Linked DNA regions of Homo sapiens: region 1 is linked to region 2. Evidence: fine-mapped expression QTL. A gene starts in region 2. The other region holds a variant in brackets. All regions are shown on one strand. Distances are from middle to middle. Region 1 overlaps PDE7B (phosphodiesterase 7B). Region 2 holds the start of PDE7B (phosphodiesterase 7B).

The links.
Region 1: its variant is fine-mapped to the expression of PDE7B in testis (GTEx, PIP above 0.99).

What each region holds. Positions count from the first base shown.
Region 1 is chr6:136,034,227-136,039,226 of GRCh38, reverse strand. All of the region lies in intron 2 of PDE7B (phosphodiesterase 7B), which reads right to left. It also overlaps the pseudogene COX5BP2. Among named protein-coding and RNA genes, the nearest start is that of PDE7B-AS1, 36 kb to the left of the region's middle. RefSeq lists enhancers at 422-922, 923-1,423. The variant T/A (reference allele first, on the strand shown) is at 2,311.
Region 2 is chr6:135,848,936-135,854,363 of GRCh38, reverse strand. PDE7B (phosphodiesterase 7B) reads right to left here and starts at 2,663. Exons shown (of 13, transcript NM_018945.4): 1 at 2,345-2,663. The coding sequence starts at 2,365. LOC101928373 (a long non-coding RNA gene) reads left to right here. Exons shown (of 3, transcript NR_187609.1): 3 at 1-328. RefSeq lists a silencer at 2,639-2,876.

The sequences.
Region 1 (5,000 bases), 190 kb before region 2:
GGTTGTATCCACTGTCAGAAACACAGTGAAGTTCTCCACAACCGTCCCAAACACAGCACATTCTTATGACAAGACAAAGTCCCTGGGAATCATTATTTCCACATTTGTGAGTGAGTTGATATCAATAAAGGTGTTTATATTGCTGACATTTGCCAAAGGGGAAACCAAGTCAAGAAAGTTTACCAACTTGCCCAGGACATAAAAAGCTTGCATGCCAAACTCAGTGCTGGGAACATAATACATGCTGTAAATGGCATAGTTAAAAATTGGAAAATGTATTTTACTTTATAGAAAGAATGATAAAAAGCCACCCAAGGAGAATATTCTCCTAGGGATATCTCTAACTTGTTGACAAGAAATGTTAGAGTCAGGATGGCCATTAAAGAGCATCCAATTCCACCCCCTCCTTGGTGGGGACTGAAACTCAGGAAATTTGGCTTGTGCAAGCCCAAAGGGCAAGCATTTGTCAAGCTGAGTCCAGGACCCAGGTTTCTTGATTTCCAGTCAAATGCTCCTCCTACTAAATCACTCTTAATTTCAAGATGCATTTCTATCATACAGCAGACATTTGGAAGTCACAGCCCTCAGACCTGATGCTACACAGTTCATTTTCCTCCCTATGGCTTGGACTCTACAAAGAAAGGGAGTTAGTTATCAGACTTGGTCCTGTGACCTATTACACCCCATGGTCAATTTACCTGGAAAGCTGCGGAGAGCATCTTCATTGTCCAGAATGCCTCTCTGTTTGGTCGCCTGCAGCTCACTTTTGGATTTCCAAACCAGCTTTACCATCCTGATCATCTCTGGCAAGTCCCAGGGCAGCGGCCCCTGCTGGCACCCCGGCCGGCTTCCCGGGGAGGAGGGCAGCACACCTTCTGGGCCTGTCCACCTCCTGCCTAGCTCTGCTGGGTGGAAATATCGCTCTAGCACAGGCATTCTGTCTTGTGCCCCAGAAGAGGAGGTAGTGGTGGTGGTGGTGCTGCTGCTGCTGCTGCTGTTGCTGCTGCTGCTGTTTCTGCTTCTGCTGCTGCTGCTGCTGCTACCACAGGGGAAATTCTTCCCAGGCAGGGAAAAGCGAACCCCCGTAAGATCCTCTCCAGCTTCGGAAAGACAAGCCTCCTCCAGCCTGGCACAACCTCCCTGTCTCTTCAGGCCCTCCACAAACACTGCCGACGAGAGCGATTCACTTCCCTAGGTTTCTCTCTGGTGAGAAACTGTTACTGTACTCCTTCCTTAGAGATAGAATGCATTTTTTTTCCCCTCCTCTCTCTGGCACTGAGTTCACAGCACTTAATTAATCCCAGGCTACAGCTGGAACGACAGCAGGGAGAAAAAAAAAAGCCATCGAGGTTCTAGCATTTGCTTTTCCTCTTCTTTCTTCTGATTTATTTGTTCTCAATTCTCTTTTGGTGCTTGTCAAAGTTTGTTGACTCTTAGCTCTTTGTCGGCTTAGCTCTTAAGGACTTCAGGCAAAGAAGCGGGGCTTCCCCTTTGCTAACCTCACAGAGGGGCTCCCCCCTTGCTGGAGGCCAGTTATCTGGAGGTGTCAGGTGAGGAGTCACCCCTGTGGTACAGGCTCAGGCCTGCAAGCCCCAAGGAGTTCTCAAAAAAACAGAGGAAGCTGAGAGTCTGCAGAGCCAATCTGCAGCTGCTTCTCTCTGGAGGGCCTGATGGGGGTTGGGGGGCACCTTGCCCAGTCACCAAGACCAGTGCTGGGATGGGCTTGGTTGATCCTCAGTGCCTCAGTTTGATCACTCTCGCTCCTTCTCCACATCCCTCCCCCTTGTGTCATTTGGTTCTCGGCAAACCTATCTGGGTTATGACCTATTAGTCAAATCCCTTCATAACCTCAGCTGCCCTTCAGCTGGAAGGGAAATAACATTGAATCACATTCCACAGTTAACTCCGAAAGATGCGAATTCGGGAAGCATCAAGATCCTCATGCGTATGGGCAGTGGCCTGCATAGCCTGGATATGTGGCTCAGGCTCATTCAAAACCCATTTTCAAAGGAACAAGCATTTTAAAGGATGTTCACAGGGGACATAAATGGCAATGAAAGAAAGAAAAGAATGTTAACAATTCACCTTCTGGAGGGAGAGCACTGTTGATTTATTATGTGGGCCACTGACTACTGTGTCCCCGACCTGAGAGTGGTTGAATCGAGGGCAACATCAACTGTGGGCCATGCCTCTTGTTCCTAGTCTCAGAGATGGAGGCGCTAACCCTGAAAGTAAGAACCAATTCAACAAAAGGCGATGCCCCCTGTAGCTTATGTGAAAGGCCTTGGACAGAAACGAAAGTAGGGTAGT[T/A]TTGTATTTGGCACTTTTGCCAGCAAATTGGGTTTGTAGGAACAATTTGAACTTGCACATTCAAGTGAATAGCCCCTGTTTTCTTGGAGAACATTGTAACAATCCCATCTTCCTCTCTTCACGTCTCCACATTGCAAAGTGCTTTATTTTGCTTGGCATGCCATTTTGCTGGTGTATAATCTGTTGCTTCTGCTCTACATTCCTTTCAAGGCTGGTTTATCACACAATTATTTGATATTTCTTCATGGGAGAGAGGAGGAAACTTGGGGAAGAGGAGAAAGATCGTTGTAGAGTGTGTTTTATTTTCATTACTCCCACCTCATTTCTTTTTAAAGTTGAAACCAGCAAAGACAACTGTAATTTTATTGTTGTTTTATTATTTCTCTAAATCCATGGTTAATAAGTTTAGTTTTCCATACTGGATTAAGTGAATTTTCTTTTTTCTGGATGGAAAAGCATACTGGCAAACCTACTCTCCTTCCTAACAGGTGAAGAAGGGGCAAGAGGGTATAAAACAATAATAAAGACATTGAAGACACTGCTTTTGGTGAATTTTGTTATGAAAATATTGATCTAGCAGCTCTTTCTATAACAACCAGATATACATACAACACAATTAGGGAATAATCAGCGGTCTACTTGATTAGAAAGATGTGCCCTTCCTTTTTCCCTCTCTGATAAGAGATGAAAGGATTTCACCATCAGTTCAACACTTCCACCACTTTGACAGCCCGTCCAGTCCTTATCTTACCCTTCCATCAGGCTGGGGGCATCAAGACTCTCTAGGATTGAGATGATTTTATTTAATAATCACATGTAGACTGTTTGCTTTATTATCATATTTCCTGAATAATGTCTTAAACTCACTCCTCAGTCACAAACTTCCTTGACATAACAACTGAAGAGTTTCCTAAGTGTTTGACTATTTTTATTTTTGTTCAGTTATTTTGCAATAGTACTTAGCATCAGGATATCCTGACCCTTGGAACAAAGGGGTTAAGAACAAAGAAAACAAATATGTGATATCATATATCACATACACTAATGTACTAAGAACACAACACTTCATTGTTCATTTCTTCAAGAATGACTTTTTAAAAAAAATCCAAGGATATACATTTCCATTGTATCCTCTGTACTATTTTATCTAGTTCCTTGTAAAAATATCTTAGAGAAATTACAAAATGTTGGATCACTGAGCACGAATACTTCCTAGTGGAGATGAGTCAGGGCCAAGCCATCACCATTTCACATTTTCATTCCCAAGGAGGAACCTACTTCATTTGAAGGTTTGAAACCTGGAAATATTTGCACAATTTAAAAAAAGTTCCCCCAATATGGGATTATTTTCATCCTGGAGTATAAGGGCAAAAATACCACAAGAAAGGTCATTCTCATGGTATTTCTGGCTCACATAGAAACAGGAAGTACAGGAAATCTTGCGAGAAAGCTTGGCTCGGAAATTTTTGGCTCAACTGCAGGTTCAAGAGATTGGGACAAACTGATGCGAGGCTAGTACTTGCTGGACTAAAACCTCTCTACCATGTGAATTATCTGAAAGGTGGTTTTGTTACATTTCGTAGCTAACATCTCATAGGCTGGGATCTCTTTTGTTTTTCAGATAGTTACTTTAGAAGAACATGCCTGTAAACCTATAATTTTCACTACTCAGTGGACATCATTCATCTTGATATGGTATCTGCAGCCAGAAGTTTGGATCACTGAGGGTGGGGAAAGGGTGGGGTTGTTATGTGATCAAAGGAATCATGGAACAGAGAAGACCCATCTAGGTAACTTGTGAGGATTCTTACACATGTTAATATCAGTAATTAATGGGTTGCAGACAGGACATTTTAAGATAGATTTTCAAAATAACCAAGTTCTTTTTCAGGCATTGTGAATCAACCCAAAATAATGAGAACTAACAAAGTCAAAACAGCTTGTTCCAATGGACAATGGACACCTACTTGTATCAAAAAGACTTTGCTGTTCCTGGAAGTACTGTTACTTGTTGAGGGTGTGATGGCTTCATGGCTTCGAGGTTACTTTGAGGAGCTGGGGTGCCGGCTGTGCGGGCCCTGAGGGCCCAGGGTCCCTGAGGGGTGGTTGAAGTGCACTCCAATGCATCTGGAGGTGATGTTCTTACTGACAATGAGCAGGTGACTGGGTTGGAGAGGGATATCATGATGGCTGCACGGAAGGGACTGGACCCATATAATATACTACCCCCAAAGGCAGCTTCAGGTACCAAAGAGGACCTTAATTTAGCCCCCCTCCTTCACCAGCAGTGGGCAGCATCTGTGAAGAGAATAGTGCCATCATCTGGTTTTGGCTGGACAAAGGTGAGCCCCGGTGATGCCCTGACTGGAAACTATTACAAGCTGCCCCACCAGTGGGCCCACTGAGCCCCTGCACTAAGTTACTCAAAATGTGCTAAAAAGTTTCTTCTTTTTAATAAAAACTAGCCATTGCATTGGCTCCTTCTTCCAAAAACTAAAAATAAAAAGACTTTGCTTTGTGGTTGGAGCTATAAAAGAATTGATAACCCCGATACTAAAGTATACAACCAAGAAAAGTGTCAAATATATAGTTGATTTAGAACCTGGATTATGTTGAAGAATTTTTGGTGTTCTGAGGGCTATGTAAAAATCTTGTAGACTATGGGTGCTCCAGTCACTAGGCAGATAAGC
Region 2 (5,428 bases):
CTCTTAGCTTCTACATTTAGATGTTTCAAAGTCTGTTCTGATCCTTAAATTTGACACTTCTCTTTAATATAAACAAAGCCCTTTTAGTATTCTTTGGGATTAGCTTACCACTTAATAAATTCCTTCCAACACTATCTTCTGTGAGTCAACAAACAGCTTCCTCCTGTGATTTGGGCCTGGCTAACAACAAGTTAGACTTCAGACGAATAATTACTAGGCTGAGGCATTTTCCAGGTGGTACATTCCCACTTTGAGGAAACTTGGTCATTTTACTTTTGCATTTAAGATGTCCTTAGGCTGAAAATAAAGTGTCAGTGTTTGAAATGTCCTTCTCTGTATCATTGACTTGATTTTTAGATAATATTTCAGGCTGGACTGACACCAAAAGTGCTTTTCAAAAACACATGAAAAGACCAAAATTATTTAAATAATTTACAATATATGAAAGGTAGTAAATTCTAGGCAAACATTTTAACTAGGTTTTTATGGAGAACTGACAGTGAGTAGCTTTGTGCTGAACCCTGTGTAAGGCATTAAATGATGCACTCGTGTAATTATTTTCCCTAAATTAATGCCTGTCCCTGACACATCTTAGACTTTTCCACCCTTGCCCTAAATAACTTAATTAAAAAAAAAAATTCTCCCAGCTAATTTGCTGACATATAGTCACCACTGATTTTGTCACATGTTGTTCAAGAGAGTGAGTACATTCTGAAATTAGACAGCTTACAGTGTCAGGTAAAAATTCTTACAAGGCAGAGACAGTTTTTGGAGTTGCAACTAGTTAACTGTGGGCTTCTACTTGAGACAAAAGTGACTTCATTTTATTGGAGAAAATGTCAATCAAGACGTAACTACTGACACCTGTCTTTGTTTCACCAGCCAGTAATAAAAGATAAAGCAGAGGAAATGGAGGAGCTGCAGTTATGCGTTTGCAACACACAAAGTCCTTGTTTTCCCACTAGGCGCTGCAGAAAAGCAATTGTCCATTCACGGCACATCCTCTGCATTTCAGAGCTAATATTTTTGCAGTTCTTAACTTAGTACATTCCAGTCTTATGCAGTTAATTTTTTTAACCCTTTGAAATACACCTCATGTTTGAAATCGTGCTTAATATTACTGCTAACATGACCCAGTTTTAAAGCTTTCAGGTTCTCAATGTTGAGAATAGAAACTTTAAGAAAATCGGTTAGAAATTTTGGAACAGGGTAAGGATTTCAAATAATCCTGTCTTATTTGCTATTGCATAACTTTGAGAAGGGTAATAGGGAAATCCATGGTAACCATATATTACTTAAATTGCTGTTACAAAAACCGACTCTTTGGATAGGAATGATTTTTAGCAGGGATCCTCCTTAAGACATAATAATGTGCCACTGAAAACAACATTAGCCCTGTATTGAATTGCCAATCTTCCTGCAGCATTTAGTGTGTTTACTGTATATGAATGCCTATGCCTGTCTCTGGTGCAAAGAGGTTTACTCTTATTGCAATAGTCACTCTGGCTAGAGCACATGAAGAACAGAATTTTTAAATGATTAATTAGTCCCCAGGCTCAATCACTTAAGCCCCTAATTGAATATCTGACTCCATTTTCAACTATTGTAGGAAAAGATAATTAGCAAATTTGCAGTGGTAATAAAGAAGTTTTACTTTCCTTTATAAATAATAATATCTAAATTTCTGGTCATGTAACTTAGTACTTGCATCTCTCCTGGACTTCTGAATCCAAAACATTTTTTGAAAAATGCAACAAGGTGATGAAGGATTTTTCTTCAGAGCTCATTTTTTGGACATCTTCTATTGATTTTTTTCTACCTTCAGTCTCACTATCAGCTTCTTCCCTTCTTGCCACTAATTTCTTCATCTTGAAGTCTGCTATCAACCAACATGAAAAACTCAAGAAAAAAACTAATTTCCTTCTTCCCTGTTCCACAAACCTTACCAATCCCTTTACCAGCATTTTCCTATCCTGTCCCACCAAAAATGAAAATTACCCAACTCCAAGATTTATGTTGGAGAAAAAAAATATTGCATTCTTTATTTTTTTTTTTAAAGACCACCTCAGTGTGGGCTCAAAGTGCAGTGAAAATGCCGGAGTCTCATTACACTGGTTGGAATGAAACCCTGCTGCCCTTAAACGGTTAATTCAGGGTAAGTGATAATGTTTAGTCAGTTCGCCTAGAAAAAGGAAGGAAATTCAAAAGCTGGTTGCTGTAGTAACAATCACAGACAAAAAACATATATATGTACAGGTTCATTTTAAATAAAAATCCTGCCATCTCTCTGTGACTCTATTCTCTCAAGAAAACTGAGCTTGCCGCTTAAATTTGTTGTACATACCTCAACCATTAAACAAGACATTTAACCATAGTGGCAGTTCTGTGACCTTTGAATGCCGTGAAATCTCTGAGCGGTGCTGCTTGTTCATGAAGACTTGTGCTGCAGAATCCAGCAACTTCATCCAGGATTAGGAATATAATTAAGTAACAAAAAAAAAAAAAGAAAAAAAAGGAAAAGAAATAAAGAAACACAAAAGCACACAAGGAGATCGAGAAAGAAGGAAGGTAGAAAGAGAGACTCTCCCTGGGTGAGTAACACCACTTTTCTCCCAGACAAGTGCTGGGACAGAGCCGAGCCTGCTGCAGTGCCCAGACCAACTGACTGGCTGGGTGAGCAGCCGCCGGCCTGCTAGGCTGGGAGGTGCTGTCAGTTGCCACAGGCAAGGAAAAGCAGAGACCAATCGGCTTCAACTCTGGCAGCTTACTGGAGTGGAGCCTTTTCTGTTTATGTTTCCTCATTTCAAGAGTGACGTCAAAGGGTTTAGTTTTTCCTCTGCATGTGCTATTAATTTTAAAGTACTGTACTATGGGAAGAATGTGTGTGTGCCTGTGGTCAGCCTGGGCACCCCACTCTCAGGAGAGCCCAAGAAACATTTTCTATATTCGGGAATACATTTAAAGAATTTAAAATACCTTGTGGTGAGGTGTATAAAAACAAAAGCAAAACAAAACAAAAATTAAATATAAAACCCTGAGCTAAATCATAGCAGCAAGATGTAGATTTTTTCCATCTGTGAGTGTATGTGCTCCATGCTCACTTGGCAGCTGTTGCTTATTTTTTTTTACCTAATTCATTTTTACTCTTACCTAAAAATGAGTTGTTAATTAAACTTGATAGCCATAGAGGCAGAATCGTACAAATGCACTGGTGAACAAAATGATGTGCAATGAAACATAGAACTCCTGTGTCAGTTTGTGCCATGGGTCCCTGCGTTTCCTCCAGCTTCCGTGGTGAAGCCTCAGGCTTGTTCCTGCCAGGGAGATGCCTCCTGATGCCAGCAGGAGTCATTCAAGAAGCAAGGCTATGGTGATGCCATGCAGGTGTGCCTGGGGCCTCAGCTTGTTCTTTCCCAAAGAGTATGAAGGTCCAGTTATTTAGGGATACTTCCTTTACCAGGGACCCCAGCTTATCCCTGGGTTACACTTCCCACTCTGGAAAAATCCCCATAGTTGCCATCTGTTGTTTCTGCCTCCCCCACATCCTCCTCCTTTTCCCCATCCCCATCCTAAATTCTGCTAACAGACCTTTTTTGGGTGGGCGGTGGGCGGAACTTTCCTTCCTCTATCTTCTATGGATTGCATGGACTTTGCCCCCAGCCCCATTCCCACGACAGAGCCACAAGGGGGCATGGGACCCACAGGGGCCAATCAGATTTCTCCATTGCTCCGAGGCAGACTATGTTTTAGGGGTGGGCGCAACACTAAAGAATGTCCACATTCCTTTTTCAAATACTAATATTGTTTCTTTGAGAAAGAAAGTATTTATGTATCCCTAAGAGCCTAGGCGCTAGGATTAAGCATCCCTGTAGTTGTTGGGGTTTATCTTTGGTGTTGAAGCTACAATAGTGAACAAAACAGATGGTTCTTTGCCCCCATGGAGTCTACATTTTGGAGAAGCAGGGAAATTGTCAAAGAAAAATAAGTAAACGTATAATGTCAGTTGGCAATGAGGGCTTCAAAATAAGGTAAGGAGAATGAGGTGTGTGTGTACACGTGCATGTGTGTGTGTGTGGTGTGTGTGCTATTTTAGGAAAGATGATCAGGGCAGCCCTCTGATAAAGCAACTTGGAGCGGAGGCCCGAATGATGGGACATAGCAGGTACTGTGTGCCTCTACCTTCCATGCAGATGAAGCCATGGAAAGGTCCCACAACACATGAGTGCTTGGCAGAGCCAAGGAACAGGAAGGGAAATAGAGTGGCTGGAAGAGAATGAGCAAAGGGAAGAAATAAGTTTCAGAAGGTATGTCTGGGACAAGATCAGGACATGTCTTACAGGCCATGCACACGACTTAGATTTTATTCCAAGGTGAAAACCTACCTATCAGAGTGTTTTGAACTGAGGAATGTCTATGATTCGACACGAATTCTGAAGAGATTTCTCTCTTTTCTCTGTGGAAGATAGACTCCTAGGGAGCAAGAGTAGAAGCAGAGAGACCAATAAATGAGGCCACTGTGCTAACCTAAGTGAGAGCACATCATGGCTCGGACTTGGGTGAGAGCAGTGGAGAAGGTGGGAGGGCCAGATTTTGGAAGGGGGCCTGTGTATTTGCAGAGAGCGTTGGCAGTATTTGAAGATGAGAGGTGTGAGAAAAAGAGAGGAATCAAGAGTAATTTCCAGGTTCCTGGCTTGGGCAAACTGGACTAGAGTTGCCATTTACTGACATGGGGAAGACTGGGAGAAGAGCCTGGTTTTGAGGTGAAATAAATAACAGTTCTGGACCTTCACTGAACAGCAACAGATATTTGATTGTGTACTCTGTACCAGGCACTGTTCTAGGTGCTGGGGAGAATGCAGTGAAAACATATAACACACATACACACCCTCCAACACGTAATTCTTTGACCCCACGAAACTTAGATTCTTCTGAAAGGAGAATGGCCATAACAACAAATAAAAAATTTATATAGGATATCGGGTGGTAATACTGTTGTGAAGAAGAAACAGGAGAGGGAAGGGTCACTAGTCAGATAGAGGCTTGCAATTTTAAAGTGAGTATGCAGAGAAGGTGCCACTGCAAAGATGATGTTGGACACAAAGGGGAAGTTGATGAGGGAGGCATAGGGAGAGCATTTTAAACAAGAGGACATTAAGTGCAAGGCTCTGGGGACTGGAGTATTTGGCTGGTAAGTAGTAGGATATGGCAATGGGTGCAGAGGTGACAGATCAAGGAGAGTTTTCTAGGTCATTGTAAGGACTTTGGCTTCCTGTCTGCATGAAACAGGGCTTTAAGGAGAGGAATGAGGCAATCTGACTTACTTTTTGACAGGATCGCTCTGGCTACCATGTGGAGGTCAAGGTAGAAGAGAGTCTAATAAACGATATATTGCAATAAACAAGCCAGACATCCTAGTGGTGTCTACCAC